4 separate regions of the Homo sapiens genome follow, and regions 1, 2 and 3 are each linked to region 4. The links come from fine-mapping of genetic effects on gene expression. A gene starts in region 4. Each other region holds a variant in brackets. All regions are shown on one strand. Distances are from middle to middle.

Region 1 (4,000 bases), 340 kb before region 4:
GAAAAAGTCCTCAGCGTAAACTGATATCAGCTTAGACCATATCAAAATTAGCAGCTTGTATGTAAGAAGTCAATCATTACATTTTATAAGATATGACGGGAATAGGTCCTCTGAAAAATCAGGAGTCCTCTGCTACCCTAGATATGAGATAACTTTGATCAGAGGTGGTTTAGGACCTTGGGTAGCTCTCAGGGAGCTGGCTCTTGTTCTGTTAATAATAAAAGCCATACTGAACAAACATATACCTATGTTTATATTGATGTCTATATGCAGACAGAAAATCTCAGAAGAGTCTGGTTGCCTGTTTTTTCCTCATAGTTAGCTTAATCTTTATGAAACACAAACCTCTTCGTTCAGATGAAGAGCATTTAGTGTCCACATCCACATCCAGGAGAGAAAGCCAGGTTATTCTGTGTAGTCTGGAAGTTTCACAGGGGTATACACTGATGAGAAGGCCTGACTGCAGCAGAGGAACTCTGTCTGCTGCAACACGGGATTACTCAGGCCCCAGAGGTACCAACTCCACTGGACCAAAAATAGAGCCCAGGCATGTAAAGCTTAAGACCATGAACTCTCAAGACAGCTGCTTTCTGGCATTGAATTAACTAGGGTGCTACTAATTTTTACAGTAACCATAAAGGGGAGAATAGATTATACATTATTTTTTATAACTAACATGGGATTGTGACACCATTAAGTTGCGCTTTGTCTTTCGGTCAATTAAATTCATAATTTATTGTAATATGCTAGAACCCTATGGCAGAGGCTGGCAAGACTCATCAAATCCATTTTATCTTCCATCAGAGCATATAGGTGGACTACATTTTCTGGCTTCCTTTGCAATTAGGTGCAGTCATGCGACCGATTTTAAACCAGTAGGATTTTTCATGGAAGTGGTATATACCACTTCCAGGCCTGGTTCATGTACTTTCCTTGCAAGCTTCCATGATTTCTTTACTATTTTATCTGCCGGTCAGATTAACGGAGTCAGTGGTACACTCCAAGACTCTAGACTTTAACAAAGCCATTAGATGGATGAAGCCTGGAACTCTAAATAATTGCGTGAAAAAGAGACAACCTTCCACCCAAGCAAACTTAAGTTTACTGTAACATAAATAAGAAATAAATATTTATGTTGGTAAGTAACTAAAATGTGAAGCTATTATAGAAATTAGCCACTGTGGCTAACGTTATAGGACTAATAGATATTTTTGAATATGATACATATGATCAAATCACATTTATATGAAAGTGCAGGTCTCGGCTATGAGCCATGACACTTGAGTTTTAATAAGCCAAATGTTTTGCATATATAATATACTTTAGTAACTTGCATTTTGAAATAACCTTCTTGACCCAGAGAGTAAGACTCAGTCTATCTGTAAGTGTCATCCCTTAATATTGCTTAAAGATGATAATGATTAGGGTAATGAATGATAATGATGATGCTAATACCTATAATAACATTTCATTTATAGCCCTTCTTAGTAATGTATTTATTTAATTGTCTCACTCTTTCTTGGACATGTTTAAGATGATTGCTATTATTCCCATTTTAAAGGTCTTGAAACTGAAATCCAGAATGTCAGCTAACTAATGAAAGACACGACAAATTCAAATTTAGATCTTCAGATTATTGACCCTAAAGTCCATGCTTTACCACTACCCTACAATTATTTAAGCAGAACCTGTCATAAAATTGCGGATATGAGTCTAACTTAAAGAACAGTGAACTCTTTGACTATGTAACTTCATAGAACTTACTATAAAGCATCTTGGTTCTGCGGCTCAAAGGATTTCTGTTTAATGATGTCATTACCATATAGCCAGGACATAACACTGCATTTAAGAGATGTAAAGTAGTCATTTAAACATTTACTGCTTTGGGCTTCATATCTATTACTGATAGAAGCTTTGAGATGAGGATTTAAATACTACTTTATATTTATTTCTTAAGCTCAGCCACAAAGCATTTTCACACGAGACATTCAGCAACTCTGAAAGGGCTACTTCTTCCCAGCCATTTGCATTTGGTCAAACTTCCTTCTTTCCTTGCTGTTTATGACTGTAACAAGTGGCATAATATGAAGGACTGAAATAGGGAGGTTGCCAACTTTTCAAAACTTTTTCTGGAAGAAATATAATTTAGTAGGAATAATATATCCAAAAGTAATACTCAAAAAAGGGCCCTGAAAACCCTCTTCAGAAATGTATGTGGGTAATATATTTCTAAGGATT[G/A]TGATTTGTACAGTGCAAAATCCATGGGCAGTTCAAAAAAGTTGGACCAGGAAGAAAGGAAGCCATTTCCAGCACAAGACAGTGTTTCCTAGGCTGCAGAATTATAAGGTTTGAATGTGACTTGTTGGTCTTCCTGTACTCTTTTCTTATTCTAAGAAGAGTTTCAAAAATAAATGAGAATATGGTTATAAAAAACAATAAAATATACCCATTCTCAAAGAGTACATTTCATTTACTTCTGAATAAAAGTCTTAACATATGTAAAGCCTGTATTAACTGCTTTTAGTCCAATAATTGCAACTATACACTATATAATGTATATATTATATAGTTATGTACTACATGGTTTATAAAACATTTTCATATATCTTTTTTATTTTTGAAAAAGTATGTTTGGCAGAAATTCTTATGCCTTCTTTTTTTTAATTATGAGAACACTGATCCTTAGAAAGTCTTTTTGGCTACCATTATCTTCTCTAATAATTTGATTTCCTTTTCAAAACTCACACTGCTCAGAGAGGTGTCTCCACTCATCCCCTTTTCCAATACTCATCAATTCAATACTCATCAATTCTTATAATCTGCACTAACTTTATTTAATTTAAATCACTACAACTTGAATATGTGACTTTAAAAATTACTCTAATGTAATTTATCCAACAAATTTTTTGATCTTTTTTTAATGTAGTGTTTGTCAGCTCCCACCATAGATGACTTCAAGCTGCCAAAAATTTAACAAATGGCTCAAAAAATGTTGTACATTTAACAATATTTCTTTTGAGCCTATAAAAGCCAAATTCATCACACTACTGGCAGTGTTCACTCAGATCTAGCGCTAGCTCCTAAGGAGCTTATGGCCTGATAACGGAGATTGCATTCAGTAGAGAAAAGCTAGGAGTCTATTTTCTTTGACAAGGTCTTGGAAGCTCTGGAACCTTAGGTATGAATGTAACTGTTTTTTCCTTCTACATAAGCAGCAAAGGTCATTCAAGCAGAGGAGATAGTGTGTTCAAAGGCATGGATGCATGGAATGCCATGGCATCATTCTATATCCAATGTGCAGTGGGAAGGGCTGTCAGAAAAGAGAGTTCAGCAGGCCTCAGATCATGGAGGTTTGTTTGTGTTCTAATTGTTGTTCAATTGTTCACTCAATTGGATCAACTACATGACAACTAAGATGTATCTGCAGCTAATTTTACCTGTAACACTTTGTCTCTTTATTTTTATCTAGAGCTATATCTAAAAATCAGTGTATTTTCCCATCATATCTTCAAAACTCATTTTGTTTTTCACCATCTCTGGGAAGACATTCTTGACTTCTTCCATATTAACTCCTGCTATCTGCATCCAAGCACAGTGAACCTCCTCTGCTTCTGGGTCCTTCCCATGTGCCTCCATGAATGTATTACCAACATTGTAAGTATATTTGTTTAGATGTCTCTCTCTGTCACCCAAAGTGATAGTTCCTTGAGACGTAGGAGTGTCTTTTATTGTTTGTATTGCCAGAGGCTTGAACAGTACATGATTCATTGGAGATACTCAAGATATATTTATGCATTGTGTTGAATTAATAAGACACTTCTTGACTATAATTCAAAAGAATGAACAAAGAGTGGTGACATTCTAATTGTTGGGAATGTGAATGTTTCCTGACTCACCTTTCTGAAGCTGCTGCCATATACTAAGAAGTAATGAGTACAAAGAGTTCATGCTAACATTGCTTAGAGAATGCAAACTTTCTAGGCTTCCTCAGCCTGCTAGA
Region 2 (4,000 bases), 720 kb before region 4:
AAAGTAGGTTTACCGAGCACCTACCACGTGCCAAACACACTGTGAGGCTCAGAGAGAGGGTCGCAGGGGAGAGAAACTAAACAACACGGCAAACCTACCAAATCCCCTGGCTGCAGGGAGCTTACGTTGTGTGGGAATTGGGAGCCCGGAGCCTGGATACAAATCAATGAGTCAATGTAGCTCTTAGGAAGTTGAATTACCGCGGATAGACAAAGTCCACAGTTCATCCAGATGCACTAGTGCACGTGGCTTTCCCTAGGGCGCCTAAAGCCTGTGGACCACAAACAGCCTCCAAGTCTCAGGCACAGGTTGTGGAAGATTGCTTACCGGAGAAATGGCAGGAGTGAGTTGAATATTTAGGTGTTCATGTATTCAGCACAAGACAGTTCCAGCAGAGAGGACAGAGAATATGGGGCAGTGGGGTGGCAGTGAGTTGGGCTTTATTGGCTAAGGACTGGCTCCCTGCTCTGAGCCACTCAGTCCATTAATTAGTCACTTCTTAACTGAAAGACTTTTGTAGAATGGTAGGAGCTGTCCTCTTGCCTTAGTAGTTTCTAAAACACGAATTATAATGTTGTCCTAAATATTAATTGTAACGATACTTCCTATAAAGTATGTATTTTAAAATAAATATATCAGTAATCACCAGCAGAAAGATAGAATTAGAGGTGAGTGGAGATCTTGTTTTTCAAAAATATGTATTCCAGTGCATATTGTGAAAGACCTATTTATTCTGTTTCAGGAGAAATAACTTTTTGCTAGGAATAACTTTGCAAGTTGCAAAAGCATAAAGCAAATATATATTTTTAATGAAACATTAGTGTAATAGCTATTGGGCAGCTTATCCAGTAATTATGACAATATAGATATTCCCTCACATGTAATTCTTTTGGAGGGAGGGCATCTGCATTATTCAGAAAATGTTCGCATTTTTATATTTTGCTCTTCTGTTGATTATTTGAGTATATTCATCCTTTCATTGTGTTTCCATTTCGGACAATCTGCTTGAGTTGAAGGAATTTACTTTATTACAGAGATATCTGTCACACAGGATAAGTACATGCTGGAGGGAGATATCCTTTTATATAAGATTACTTATTTGATTGAGTTCAACTGTTGAATTTGCATCTGTGTTCTGAATTCAGTATAAAATCCACTTCATTACAAATAAAGACAAACATTATTATATGTTTCATGTATTGTGGGGGTCTGTGTGTGTATGTGTGCGTGAATTTTTTTATTTATAAAATGCTTCTTTGATTTAAGTATTTGTCCTTGGGGATGGGTTGTTATTTTGTCAAGCTAAGAACATTTTTAGCTGTTGAGATCTGGGTTAAGGGCACTGATTAAAACTTAATCACATGTAAACGGATTTTCCCAATTTAAACACTGTTTTTATTTTTTTAATGTATTGCACTTGAATTACAGTGTAAGATGTTCTACTTCATTTTCAACTTAATTTCTTACTGAAGAAAAAATTCTAACGTCCAAACAAGAAATGTTGGAATACCTTACACCTTAGAAGGGAGTATTTGCAGTTCTGTTTTGTATGGTTTCTAATGATGTTATTTTTAAAGAAACATTCTCCTGCCTCAGCCTCCCAAGTAGCTGGGACTACAGGCGCGCGCCACCACACCAAGCTAATTTTTTGCATTTTTAGTGGAGACGGGGTTTCACCGTGTTAGCCGGCATTGTCTCGATCTCCTGACCTAGTTATCCGCCCACCCCGGCCTCCCAGAGTGCTGGGATTACAGACATGAGCCACCATGCCATGCCACTTCCACCTTTTTACCTGGTAAAATTAAAATGTTTAGACCAGGTGCCCATTAAGATATTCTCATTCTCTAAGTTTTTGTGATGATATGTTGATGTTATAAATCAAA[T/C]GCCTATCTTCTGAATGAAAAATTATTTGTATATGTTTAAATTTTAGTGGGAGAGTCAATTAAGTACTTAGAAATTAAAAAAAAAAAACTCAATAGATAAGTTAATTACCTTGCAAAAGGCCCTTACCATCCACCATATTTTCCAGTGCTCTCTAGTTTTACATGCACATAGTCACAATTTTGTCTTGATAATGTTTAAATCTGAAATTTAAAATGTATTTACAAAGCATAACTTCTGAATACAAAAATCTATTTAAAGAGAGTTTTTTAAAAAAAAGATTCACAGAGTATTTTGAATACTTTTTCATGTATTATCTTTGATCAGCTAATTCATGGACAAGCATACATTTTATAACATTCATATAACAGTAAAGGAAGTTTTTCTACACTTTTCATGGGAAGAAATCAGACTCTCATAACTGAAAAGGAACTGGAGAGATCACCTAGCAAAATTCCTTCTATTTTGGGTTATAAATATCTAAACTTTACAACACATGGCCATTTTATTCAGGAAGATTTCCTAGAATTCAAACTCCATCACTTCTTTCTGAAAATGGATTACCTCAAATCCTAGTTTTGGGTTCACATGTAGACAGAACTCACAATGCTGCTTTCTCAATATATTCATTTGGGTTTCTGAAGCCATTCAAAAACTTCCTCACATACAACATTGTGAATATCTACAATGTCTTTCTTTCTCTTGCTGTTTTACCCTTTAAAAACAGGAAGTCAATGCAGTACATCTCTCTTTACCTAGAAATATTAAGGTAGATAATTGAGGACGGGTTATGAAATTTAGATAATAATTGGATTAATTGAAGATTATCGTTATAGTGTTTTGGTATCTGTGGCAAAATTAGGTTGTTCTATACATACATAGGTCATCTATGCAGTATTTAATCCTCCACCTCAAATAGCAGACAAAGGACCAAAGAACCAAAATTTACTCTAAAAACAACCAAGTAAGAAATAAGGTCTAGCTAACAGCTGATATGTCAGAAAGACAAATGTCCCTTGAGATTTTCTGAAGTAGGATACCCTTTAGAGACAAACTCTTCAGTTTCAGATAAATTAGACAAGGCAAACAGTACTCCACAAGCAGCTAGTTGCTAGAAACCCTCACTGCATTTTCCTTCTCTTTGCTCCCCTTCCTGAGGTAAATCTGCAGTGTCATGTAAAGACCACCTTGATGGGGATTTCCCTAGCATTAGCCAGTCCTCTGTTGAGTGTCTATAATGAGCACAGCATCAAGAAGACAGAGTTCACGAGCTGTGTCTTCAGAGACTTGGCCTGAAATATGCCCAATTAGCTCTTTGCAGATAAAGAAATAGCTTTAGTTCATATCTTCTGCTATCATTTGGTTTCGATTTATGAATGACCTCTACTCACCTCAATCGGGTTTTGAATTCCCCAAAATGCACATCATGTCCCTGGACAGAAAACCAGTATGCTGAGCAATCCTCATAAACAAGCTACATTTTAGAAGCTCTAACCAGTAAACTATAACAGGAATTTACTTTTAAAGTAAAAAAGAAGAAAGAAGTAAAGGCACTATATATATAAGTGATACTCATGTATACTATTCATTCTGTTTTGAGTTTCTTTCAGTATCAGTTAACTAAAGTTTTTGTCAGTCTCTGTCTTTGACAGGAAGACTTTCCTGTTATAAAAATTCATAGCCCAATTATGATCTCTGGTGGAAGCAGACAGAGTTGCAATATCCTGAGAGTCATTCTTGCTCTCTGGAGACCTGAAGATATTGAACAAATTGCCCATGCCTACTGAGGTCCAGTGTTGTCAAATCTCTCTTTTTTTTTTTTTTTTTGCTATATTTAAAACCTCACATCTTCCTTTCACCCCACCGCCCTTCTGTGTCATATATACAGGAATTAAGACAGTAAAACAATGCAGATTATTTTACCGTGTATGCTTTTCTCTGTATACATGTAGCTGAATTGTAACACCAAAACAACTTGAGAACGTGAGAAATTTACCTGCTGTTGTCATGTTTACCCACTAGATGCCCAACAAGGGATGTGTGTTTCTTTATTTTGCTCTTTATTTTTTAAGAGTTGTCATTTAATGAATTGGTTATGTCGGCACAGTAAAAAAGAAAA
Region 3 (4,000 bases), 900 kb before region 4:
AAAGTATATATAGTTTGGTATTGTGAACAGAATATTTCCCATTCCCATTCTAAATTATTTTTATACCTATAAGATTAATGATTACACCATATCACATTTTCTTAAACATTTCAATTATGAGTTTTTATTTTCTACATATTAAATTATAGCATCTGTAAACATATTACTTTTTTCTTTCTTTTCCAAATTTTAAGCAACTAATTATACTATGTATGCATTTGCTTCCCAGGTAATTGAAGATTCATATGAAGTTGCAAGAAATATTACAGAGAAAGTCTGTGTACTCTTCATTCAGTTTCTCTCAATGACAAGTAACATCCTGCATAATAATATCACGAAAAGAAACTGACATTGATATACTCCATCAACCTTACTCAGATTTCTGCAGTTTTACATGTATTCATTTATTCACGTGCATTCTTGCGTGTTTAGTTCTACGCAACTGCATCACAGGTGACCAGCACCACAGTCAAGAACAGTTCCATCACTAGGATCTCTTCTGCCACTCTTTCATTAACAGTCCCCCACCCAATCCCTTGGCAACCAACCACTACTCTGTTCTCCATTTTTAAAATTTTGTAATTTTAAGAATGCTATATAATCACAATCATACCATACCTAAGCTTTTGGACTGGCTTTTATCACTCAGAATAATTCCCTTGAGATCCATTCAAGTTGTTGAATGTATAAATAATCTATCACTTTTGATGGCTGAGTAATATTCCAGGGTATTGAGAGACCATTCTTTAACTCTTCACTCATTGAAGAACATTTGAGTTATTGTTATTTCTGGTTTGGGGATATTAAAAATAAAGTTACTATAAACATTTTTTTATAGATTTTTGTACAAACATACATTTTCTTTTCTCCAAGATAAATGCCCAAATATGCAGTTGCTGGGTCAAATGTAAACACATTACAGTTTTATTTAAAAATTCCATATGCTTTTTTACAGTAGTTTTACCATTTTACATTCTCACCAGCAATGTATAAATGATCCAGTTTCTCTGCATCTTCGGCAGCATTTGATGTCATTAAAAAAAAATGGCTATTCTTATATACGTGTAGTGATATCCCCTTGTGGTTTAATTTGCATTTCTCTAGTAGCTAATGAGGTTGAACATCATTTAATGTGCTTATTTATGATTCCCATATAGTCTTCAGTGAAATATCTGTTCATGTCATTCGCCCACTTTCTAACTGAATTATTTCGTTGGTGTGTTTGTTTAATGCTGCATTTGATGAGTTCTTCGTCTATTCTAAATACAAATGCTTTGTCAGATACGTGAATTTCAAATATTTCCCTCCAGTCTGTAAGTTGTCTTTTCACCCTCTTTAGAAAATGTTTTGTGGAGAAAAAGGTATCAATATTTATGAGATCCAGGTAATCAATTTTTCCTTTTATGAATCGTGCTTTTGCTGTCAAGTCTAACAATGTTTCACCTATTTCTTGGTCTTGAAACTTTCTCCTATGGCTTTTTCCTAAAAAATGTTATAGTTTTATTTCACATATTCCTCCCTGCTCTATTTTGAGTTACTTTTTGTATATCTTCACACATGGCATGAGGCTTAATATGAAGTTTTGTTTGTCTGCTGGTTTATTTTGTTTTGTGTCTATGGATGACTAATTGTTCCAACTTCATTTTTGAAAAGCATTTGTTTAATTCTATTGAATTATTTCATTAGCTTGAATGTGAAAAATGATACTGAGCTGGGCAAGGTGGCTCATGTCTATAATCCCAGCTGCTTGG[G/C]AGGCTGAGGCAGGAGGATCATTTGAGTTGAGGAGTTAGTTCAAGGTTAGAGTGAGCTATGACTGTGCCACTGCGCCACTTCACTCCAGCCTGGGCAAGAGAGTGAGGCCTAATCCCTAAAACTAAAAAAAATTAATTTATTTTAAAAAAATGTTGAATGATCATAGTGTCAGTGACATTGCTTTTTTTCCATTATGAAATAATCATTATTTCTTTCCAGACTCTTTTATATAAACATATTTTTCTCCTTTAACACATTGATATAAAAATTACATAAATACAATCTCCTGTTTACAACCACCCGATATGTCTGTAACAAAATCCAACCAAGCACGTTGAATTCTTATTTTTATACTATTAGATTAATATGTTAAACTTTTATTTAAATGTTTACATCTAGGTTAACAGACAAAGTTACACAGTCCTTTGTTTTCCATTCTGTATTATATTGATCACTTGGCACATTAATACATTTATTCAATATTTTTGAAGTTGTGTTTATTTTCTGTGCTCTGGAATAGTTTAATAATTTTAATAATATTTTTTAACTCCAATTGCCCCTGGAACTTATTCTAAAACCAACCCTTCAAAGCAATTCAAATAACTATAAATAAATCTTCTGTTTAAACAATAATGAGAAGGAGATATTATGTAATTTAATAATTAATGTATTTGGCTTTATTCAATACTGAGAAAACTATATACTTCATTCATTTCTTTGTTTTTTTCTTCTTCTGTGTTGCTTTCTTTGTTCCTTTCCTTAAATTTTCCTTAGCTGCCTACCCTGAGGTCTCTTGAATTTTTCATTCCTAGAATAAAGACTCCTTCCTTATACACATAATGAATAATTAAGCTTCTCTTTTAATAGCCTCCAAGGCTAACTTCTATCCTCTATCTTTTTTTTTTTTTTTTTTTTTTTTTTATGAGCAGCCTCCCCCTGTCTCATTGTAATCCTTCGGGATGTTCATTCCTTGCAACCAATCCTCTCTTTTCTGAATGTCCCCCAAACCCTACTGGGTATTAGTATCCTCATTTCACAGAGAAACAGGCTCGGCAATGTTGACAAAGACCACGTAACTAGTAATTGGCAGAGCTGAAACTTGAACCTGCATCTCTCTGACTTTAGGTTTTCTTCATTAAGCTATACTATCTCCCAAAAATAAGTTTTCTTTCCTTTTCTCTTTAATAATGTATTAATAGCATCTTTTCACAAGACAATATACAATCTTACAAAAATATTTTAGGAATATTCTTATTGCCTTTTAGCCACTAGAACCCTTCTTCCAACTGAAATCCAACTCCTTAGTGTAAGCCCCTCTGGAGCTTATTAGCATCCCATTCTGCCTCAACTTGCCCAGGAAGATAATAGCATATCCTCTTTTCTCAAAGAGAGAAATGTCACAGCATTCACTAAAATGTAGGAATTTTTTTTTTTTTTTTGCTTTCTTCAAGACACTTGTCTACAATATGTCTTAAATTCCAAGCTTACCCTCTGCTCATTGTTACAGGCAATTTATAGTTACAACGGAACTCAGTCATCAACAAACATTTATTACTCACATTGCAACGTAATTTAGCAGGAACTTAATTTATGTTAGAATCAGACCCAGGGAGAATCACCTAGAGAAATCTTACTATTTGATACATTTAAATAATTTTCTCTTTATTTTTACCTAGCAAACAGAGAAACCTGGATATCAATCATTCATCTCAATCACTCACACTGAACAACGAGAAGGTGGCTCAGAAAAAAATATTAGATTGTAAATCATTTTGAGACACTCTTTCAAAATATTATTAATTTTTATTAATCTTTAGAGAAAGAAATTCTAAAATCAATACTTAGTCCCTAATGTAAAGAAAATATTGCTAAAATTTAATATTCACCTCTCATAGGTTGTTCTCCTTACTAGCAAGTTACTTGAGAATATATCTCTAGTGATTCTGTAACAAAATATAAGGCACAATTATATATATATATATAGAGAGAGAGAGAGAGACAGAGAGAGAGAGAGAGAGAGAGAGTACACATGTATGAAAGTCTGAAAACCTACTATATTTTAATAGTTGCTATTAAAAGTGTAAATATTTGTTAACCCTATCAGATACTATAATTATGAATAGGGACACAAAAATCCAAATAAATATATGGTTTAACAATTCACAAGTATTTAGAGACCTGGAAACAGAATCCTTATTGGTTAAATAGTTACAAGGTATTGTAGAATCTTAAGTAAAAAGTTCAGCTT
Region 4 (8,662 bases):
GGTTGTCCAATTTTTATGATACTTTTCATTTCAACTCAATGGCTGCAGTTAGAAGGAAAAAACAGCATCTGCAAGATCAGCAAGATGATGTAAAACCTCTACACTAGAAACATTTTTTTTTCTGTTCCACAGTTTGTTTGTGGGCAGCCAATGCCAGAGCACTAATAAAGGAAGTGATTTGAAGTCTCTGAAAGTAGTAGTCATTTATGCTTACTCAATAAAGAAAAGGGAAAATAAATGCTTGATTCCTGTGACCTCAGACTCTTAAACAGAAAGCCACTGGTTTTGTTATAGCATTCTAGACATACTTAGCAGTAGGCAGCCAGTTTGTAACTCTATCCCACTTTAGGCTTCAATACATATTTCCCACTAGAGCTTATATATCCCAATGTAGAGTGTCATGTATTTACTATTTTGGCTTTGTTCAGTGATATGCTTAGATAATTGATGTATGTGGGAAACTGATACACAGAGGAAAACTATACCAAAAGCTCAACATTTTTTATTTCTAAACTTAGATACAGCACAGAAAATCTAATGCTGAAAAAGATTCTCATATCTGTTATTAGAGGTGGTGTAAATTATCTGAATATGAGTTCTGCATGATTTCAGTTAACTCCCTATGTTTATGTATGATGGGAATCTAATTATGCATCATTTAATATACCCTGGAAACCCCATTGCTTTTAAAAGTCACTGCTAATAAATAGAGGAACATGTTTAGTTTATGGTTTATCTATCACTGAAACACTCTGGCAAACGGTAGGTAAATTCATGAAGAAGAGACATTGTTGAAAATTATATTCCTTTTGTAATTACAGTCTATGCAATATTATTAAAGGCCTGAGACATAAACCAAAACATAATATAAATCATAAAAAGTCAGGCTTATCAGGAATAGTAGCAAAAGGTATGCACTTGTATGTTAATGAGAGATTGCAGTAACTAAAGATGCCCTGTCAGGATATCACGTTTTTTGTTTTAGTTTTTTTTTTTTTTTCATAAAAGAGTTTCAGACGAATCCATCACTTTCCCTCAAGATGCAAAATATCCACATAGATAATAATACAATTCAAGTAAATGGCAAAATATAGTAAACTTTGATTGGAAGTCTGGTCGTTTATAAGCCTTCTTGGAAATAAGAGCATCCCGAATAAAAACAAAGAGAATGGTATAAGCATGACTTGAAACTAAAACAGAAGAGTGAAATTGTGAGTTTGTTCTTTACCTTTAACCATGTGCTGTCAGAAAAGCCTCAAATTTTAAACAACACCTGCATTGAAGAGTGTCTCCAATCATCTCACTGGTTTTGAGTTACATGGTGATATAAATAAAGACATGTGATTTTATACTCTCTCTCTAGTCTTTCATCCTCTCTCACTATAATCACTTTAGTATAACCACCAGTTCAATGCTCACAATGAAGGATGAGCTTTTTTTAAAAAAGGATAAGAGATCCAAAATTCATATGACAATGAAATCCTGTTATCAGATTTGTAGTCAATTTGATGCTATTTATTTCTAGCAGTTTGCAAATTCTTCCCCAGTTCTATCAAGAAAATTGGCATGGACTGGAAACTCTTCTAGACACTCACAAAACTTTCTTCTGGAAATATACCTCTGATAGATTCTCAGTAAAAAAAAAAAAAGTCATGAAGATGAAAGAAGTGTTCAGTGGAAACTATTCTTTCCAGTCTACACACACATGCAGAGCCAAATGCTTTATTGTGACTCAACCTTCAATTCAAACTCAAATCAAGTAGGTATGTCCACTGTCAGTACCCCGATATATCAATGCCCATGTGTTAGGTAGATGAATGAAGACACATGTGCAGAAGCAGAGGGAAAAACCAGATCCTACCTTGATTGTTTTTGAGGGTTGACACTTGATGTGATGGGACACGCTGGCAGTTTGGTTCATGTTTCAGGACCCTGGACAGTGCACAATCCCAGGCGGAGTTCCAGAATGAACTAGAGATCAAGTCTCCTCTATTGGACTTCAGTAGGGGCTGCTGCTGTTGCTGCTGCCGCTGCTACTGCTGTTGCTTCTGCTGCTTCTGTTTCTGCTGCTTCCTCACTCCGGAGGCTGAAACGCTATCAGATTGGAGGAATCTGTATCTCACTTAGCCCTAAATAGAGCATTTACTTGGTTCATCAGTCTCAAAGCTCTTGGCAATATGCAATAGAAAGCCAAAAACGGTTTAAATTCACTTGCAGTGTACCTTTTCAGTATGGAGATGTGACAGCTCCACAGTACAGCCAATGATCCTGGCTCTCATTCCCCTTTCAAAGGGACGAAAACCAGAAAACATACAGAGATCAATTGCAGTCCTGCAGTTTAAAGGGGCACTCTCAACTCCTCTGTCTCTCCAGATTATAGTTTTTCCAGTGCAAAATATTTCTCTCTCTCTCTCTCCCTCTCCCCACCCCTAACCCAGTTTAAAAAAAAATCATAACATCCTCATTCTGTTACTAAATTTTATTCCTTCCTGGGTACTTCTTGCAATCAAAACACAAGTAAATGCTGTGGAAAAAAAAAAAAAAAGACTGTTGGCAGTTTCAGAATTTGGGGGTTTTATATCTATAGGTTGAAGGACTGATATTCCCTATGGATATTTTTAAAATTTAGCCATAACAGCCAGCCAAGAGACTGTCCTTTCTGTAAGGTGGCAGAAAGCTTAAGGTATATTTAAAAAGTTTTCAAATACAATAGTTATTGTAGTTTTTGGATATCGCACCAAAGCTAGACAATGTTTTTATTTTCAACCTTTATTTTTGACCATTGCTTTCCTTGAAGCCGTATTTTTTGAATGCCTGGGACAAACTGGTAGTTAGCTCATGCCAGTCTAACTCCCCAAATGGTCACCTCTCTGTCCCTAATGTCATTTTAGGCAAAATAAATTATAAATATTTGTAAATTAAGTTTTCCGAGTCACCAGTCCCCATTGTCACATCAACACTAACTAGAATAAATATATCCTGGTTGGAAATAAGATCCAGTAGTCTTGAGTAAATGCAGGACACTCTTTTCCAACTTTTGTTGCAAAGTGTTTGATGTTGAAAACCAACAGTATTTATTCATCAGAAATGTATCCTACTAATGAAATGCTAGGTTTATAAGATTGAACTAACGAACTACATTCAGGAGGCTTTTATGAACAGCCTAAAATATTACAGATAAACTTTAATGTGAAATGAAATAAATTAATGTTTGGTGAAATTAATTTATACATAATTATAAACACATATTTTCTCTTGTAAAACAGAAAAGGGATCTAAACATTCTGACAAAGTAGTCTGCACATGTTTGAGGATGGCTAAGTTTCAGAAGGTTATAGTTCTGAGTAGCAAAGTGGAGGTAAGGATGTGACAGAAGTAAGATCAGACTGTTTGCAGCCACAAAAGTTAATGGCAAGAGTATTGGAGAAATCAGGAGAATCATGGGAAAAGAGATGGAGCCAATAAGAACCAGGCAAAAGGCTGTGTGCAAGAATCTGGTGTAGCAATATCCAGGCATCATATTGAGCACAACCAGAGGCAGCCATAGGGCCAACAAATCTCATGATTTGAAGTTTACAATTCTAAATCACAAATGTGACTGGAATTTGTGGCTTATCTTGTATTTTGCTTGAATAGCATTGCTTTGAATAATTCATAAATCACAAAAAGAGTATATTAAAAATGTTTAAACATTTTGTATTCAACAATAATGAAAACAACACAGAAAATTTGCAGTATGCAGCTAAATCAATATTTAAAGGAAAATGTATATAATTAAGTACCTATACCAGAAATGCAGAAAAGCATAAAATTAATAATTAATAAGCTAATTATTCATATCAAAGAGTTGGAAAAAGAATGGCAAAATAAACTCAAATAAATTATAGGGGGGAAACAATAAAGAGAAGAGAAGAAAGTAATGAAGTAAAAAACATACAAAATACTCAATGAAAAAACCTATGAACATTTCATCAGGTGGTTTACAGTTTGATAATCTCTGAATAAATGAATGTTCTATACCAGTAGAATTGGCTTAATTCCTTTCTTAGATAGCACTTTGTACTAGGTATCTAAGAAACTTCCAAACTAAATTATCTGGGGAGCCCAGGGAGGGAGAGCAGTCCAAGAGTTCAGAGTATCCCATCCCCATCAAAGAACTGTACAGGATGGAAGGAGCCACTAGTACTTCAAGGAACCCTCTCCAGGCACATTGATAGAGACAGCATTTATATGCCTACCACAAAGAGGGTATGAGTTGCTGGATTTCTACAACTATAATCACATGAGACTTCACCCCTTTTCTACAATTTTTCAAAAAGGTTCTACCCCCACCTGGATGGCAGCAGGATCCAAGAAAGATATTGACACTACCATTTATAGGTAGGTGGCCAGAATCCACCTAAAATCTTTTCCCAAAGTTGCATTTTGAAAATAGAGAAAAATCACAGTAAGAGAAAAGAGTGCCTCGTATACACCATATGCTCCCTTTCCAGGCTCCACATTATATCAAACTCCAAGTTCCAAAGAAAAATCAAGTGTTCAGAGCAAAACATATGACCCAAATCTCATTTTGGATTTTGTTTTCCCTTTCTGTTATATTATCATTTCATGAATCAAGGAAATGAAAACCATAGTAATTTTTAAACATTTCTATTTAAAACATGTATAAATTGTTCATTATTTTGTAAAATCTGCTGTATCTTAATGTAGCCAATTGGAATGTACAACTAGAAGAAAATAGAGACCAAAGAAATTTAGACAAGTGCTAGAGAATTACAAATACCGCTTAATAAGGATAATTCATATACATTTCTTCTAATTGGGATATATTGGGCTCAATATGTTTAGAATGAAAACAGCTGCAAAATTGCATCACGGTTTGTCACATGGAAGTAGTTTTTTTTAAGGTTTAGATCTGCTGAAGAAACACTATACAGTAAATCATACTGAACTAGAAAATTTAGACAATTTAGTCCAAAGGACCAATTTCAAATGTAATCAACACTTATGATAACCGTATAAAAATATGTTGTTGTCAAACAGTTTGGGAAAAGTTAGGAGTGAGTCCCTTCCACCTTTCCCACAAAAAAAATTAAGATGGCTAACGCTTTCAGAAAATATAACCCACGATGTTCCTTGACCAGCTATCATTTGATCCGGGAAATAGAAATTTAGGATGGGGTTAATGAAAATATCCCATTAGAAAAAAAAAAAAGTCAAAGTGTCAGATGGATTCTACTACCAATTTCCGTCTCTTTGTTTCAAGTCCCATCTGCCCAAGCCCTAACTAGCTGGTCACAGTGATGACCTACAGATTGCAAAGTTAGGCAAGCCCAGGCCTCTAGTCAATAAGAATGGTATCTGAAAGGATATTGGGCTGTTTCCCTGATTTTTTTGAAATCTACTGTAGAAAATTCAAATCCCTCCATGACCATTGAGGGATCATCTCCTCATCTTAACACCTATCATCTGTGTTCTGGTCTTCTCATGACCCATCCACTGAGTCATTTGCATTTCCTACTAGAACTGGAATATGGTTTCTAATGGTTGGCTTTTTTGACTTGACCCTCACCTAACTCCTGCCTGCCACATCTTTCTTCATGATTGACCCCTGCTTGTAACACCTTCTATGCTTCAGATTGTTCCCGGGATTCACTCAAGTGGAAGTCTCTGGTCTAATTGTGGCTTCATGGTCTTCAAGAATTGATCTTTTCTGGAAACCACTTGCAGAGTCAGGATAGGCAAAGTTATGGTTCAATAACAAATAACCTCCAAGGTCGGGTGCAGTGGCCTACACTGATAATCCCAGCATTTTGAGAGGCTGAGACAAGTGGGTCACTTGAGGCCAGGAGTCTGAGAACAGCCTGGGCAACATGGCAAACCCCATCTCTACAAAAAAATACAAAAATTAGCCTGGCATGGTGGTGCACACCTGTAATCCCAGCTATTCGGGAGGCTGAGGCATGAGAGTTGCTTGAACCCCAGAGGCGGAGGTTGCAGTGAGCTGAGATTGTGCCACTGCACTACAGCCTGAATGACAGAGGGAGACTCTATCTCAAAAAATAAAAATAAATAAATAAATACATTTATAAGTAATCTCTAAATCCCAGTGGTTTAAAATAATGAAGGTTTCTTTCTCATTATACAGCATGCCAATACCTGGTTGGCACGGGAGGAAGAGCACGTGAGGCTCTTTCAATCTTAGGGATCCAGGCTGATAAAGGCCCCATCTTAATACAAGCTTTCACAATCAACAAGGCAGAAGGAAAGAAACATGAAAAATCATGCTCTTATTTAAAGGCTTATGCCCAGCAAAGACACAAAACACTTCTACTTACATTCCATTGGCTAAAGCCACTCTCATGGCTACATTCAAGTTTAGGTAACAAGAAAGTGACGTGCAGCATGCACCCAAGTAGCAGTAAAATCAGAATAGCATTCTGAGTAACCCTAATGATAGCCATAACCCTACTGCTGCTTATTTTTCATATGCAGAGATATATGCCTATCTCTGCCATCCAACCTTAAGATGCCAACATGCTTATATTTAATGGTCCATAGACTGTGACAAGTTAATTTCAAAGCTACTTCAGGTAAATATAAGACAGAACTTCTTTATCCTATGTGTCTTGTTATCAACAGGGCTTTCCTAATATCTTTTCCTGAGTTATTCAGGAGTAGGATACAGACCCATAATAACACTTGCATATGGGGAAATACCAGAGTTGAATGTGAGCTATGAGGATTTCCCCTGCTGGGCACATATAGCTCTGCAAAGGCCAGAGCCATTGGTAGGAGGCAGAGCAGGCAGGCCTGACTACATAAGAGTGCATACTTTTAACTATTCTGCTATACGAATAAAAAAAGTTATTTTATCCTACTAACCGTTGTAACTGTACTAATACAACAAAAAGTAAAACTCACATTTTCTTATTCTTTCAGTAGTAATCACTTGAAGGACTTTCTGAAAAAAAAGCAAATATAGTATTATGAATTCTCAAGTAGCAATAAAATGTAAGTTTAATGAGAAAAAGAACACAAATTTCTAAACTCGCTTTTACATTAGATGATCAACTACTGTGTGATTCACTGTCTGAAAGCCACCTCTCCAGACTTATGTCCCATAATATTCCAACCAAACACACAAACACATAGAAAGTGGGAAGTGCTCGCTCTACATTTTCAATTTATCGTCCAAATTAATTAATGAAGTAGTTTATTGTACTCTTTCTCTCATGAGGTATTGCCTAAAACCACATAGAACGTGAGAGCAGGGATTAGAATCAACAAATAAGTGAAGTTATTGACTAGCCTATGCCAGTCCAGCTTTAGAGCTGGCTGCCATTCCCGTATCCAATAAGAACTGACCTACACTCATTGACAAGTGTGAATTGCCCCTCTTTGCATCTCCCGTTACTGGATTTGGCTTCCTGATTTTTCCACTATTCATCTCTTGATCATCACCACAAACTTTTCAAACTGTCCTCTTAGCTGATCCTTGACTATAATTTGCTCTTATCCTGGAGGCTGCCTGCTTCCAAGTACACTGGATATATAGTCTGTATGATGCAGACCAACCTCAGGGTGACCGACTGTCACAGATCCAGTTGACTGACATTCCTGACAGGTTCCACTCCCTGCTGCTTGCTAACCAGAACCAAACACAAACATCTCAAAAATTATCAGTTGCCCCAAGTGGAGTTCCACATCCATAAAAAAGCAAAACATTATCTCTGCTACTGTCATTGTCTTACACAGTTCTAATGGTGACATTTATGTTTTCTGGAATAATTCTCTTCTGCAAAAACTTCCAGCTGAAAATGTGATCCAAATCCTAAATTTATAAAACACTAAAATAGATAGCCATGATTTCCTCATAAGGGATTTTTGGAGCTTTCCTCACCCTCAGTTCTCCAGTTGCAAATAACTCAGCAAACAAGACCCCCAAAAGTGCCTTAGAAATGTTCAGTTCTAGATACAGATGCTTTCATGAACACACAGAAATAAACACTGGAGGTAACTCTTTATGTAAGCATAACAATCTGCTCCACAATCCCTGACAAATGCCTTCAATAAATTTTCTCTATGGCCAAAGTCATAAATCACTGTGAAGACAGAATGCACACATAAAATCCATTGCACTATAGTTCCCCAGACATCAGGGACAGACTACTTCATCTAGTTCAGCTATTAGTGACAGCAGTCCCCCAAGCCAGCCTATACTATTCTAAGGTCCCAAGATCTGCCTATTAGGAATTTTGACCATTGCTCCCTGATTGCCCATTTCTCCTGCTTTCATTTCTTCCTGTTCTGAGTGTTGTCGCAACATTTATGACCTGAAAAGGAGTTCACATGTAAGGTAGATAATTGATGAGCCCAATAAAACAATCATTATAATTTTTAGGGAGCTTTGGCAGTCATTCAGTCCTGGATTCTACTGTGCATCCCACATCTCCAAAGCAGTGGAATGCAGAACCAGTGTTTGCCAGGACTCAGTTCCCTTCCTTTCCCTGTGGTAAACAGTCTTCAACTGCAGATAGTGCCCAACTCAGAGGCTGACTGCTACCTTGGCAGCATTAAGGAGGTGCCATGGCAGGTGTGGTTTGTAACTTCAGCATTTTGTACATTATATAAGAGAACAAAGTGCTGGTTTGGAAATTTT

Direction of the effects. Positions count from the first base shown, and alleles are read on the strand shown. Sizes are in standard deviations (SD) of each study's normalised expression. Not every link is listed here.
For the expression in esophagus muscle of the gene that starts at base 2,059 in region 4, A is the low allele of the variant in region 1 and G is the other (small effect, 0.28 SD a copy in GTEx).
With allele C in place of T in region 2, the expression in testis of the gene that starts at base 2,059 in region 4 is lower (moderate effect, 0.44 SD a copy in GTEx).

The links. PIP is the estimated chance that this variant, and not a neighbour inherited with it, causes the effect. A credible set is the group of variants that fine-mapping cannot tell apart.
Region 1: its variant is the best candidate, but not a certain one, in a credible set for the expression of DPP10 in esophagus muscle (GTEx, PIP 0.60).
Region 2: its variant is the best candidate, but not a certain one, in a credible set for the expression of DPP10 in testis (GTEx, PIP 0.52).
Region 3: its variant is the best candidate, but not a certain one, in a credible set for the expression of DPP10 in nasal epithelium (TOPMed, PIP 0.79).

The regions. Positions count from the first base shown.
Region 1 is chr2:114,775,592-114,779,591 of GRCh38, reverse strand. All of the region lies in intron 1 of DPP10 (dipeptidyl peptidase like 10), which reads right to left. Among named protein-coding and RNA genes, the nearest start is that of DPP10-AS3, 56 kb to the left of the region's middle. The variant G/A (reference allele first, on the strand shown) is at 2,239.
Region 2 is chr2:115,156,953-115,160,952 of GRCh38, reverse strand. The region is part of intron 1 of DPP10 (dipeptidyl peptidase like 10); the gene reads right to left. The region is part of intron 1 of DPP10-AS1 (DPP10 antisense RNA 1); the gene reads left to right. Among named protein-coding and RNA genes, the nearest start is that of DPP10-AS1, 2.4 kb to the left of the region's middle. The variant T/C (reference allele first, on the strand shown) is at 1,884.
Region 3 is chr2:115,336,335-115,340,334 of GRCh38, reverse strand. The region is part of intron 2 of DPP10 (dipeptidyl peptidase like 10); the gene reads right to left. Among named protein-coding and RNA genes, the nearest start is that of DPP10-AS1, 180 kb to the right of the region's middle. The variant G/C (reference allele first, on the strand shown) is at 1,752.
Region 4 is chr2:114,436,038-114,444,699 of GRCh38, reverse strand. DPP10 (dipeptidyl peptidase like 10) reads right to left here and starts at 2,059. Exons shown (of 26, transcript NM_020868.6): 1 at 1,862-2,059. The coding sequence starts at 1,921.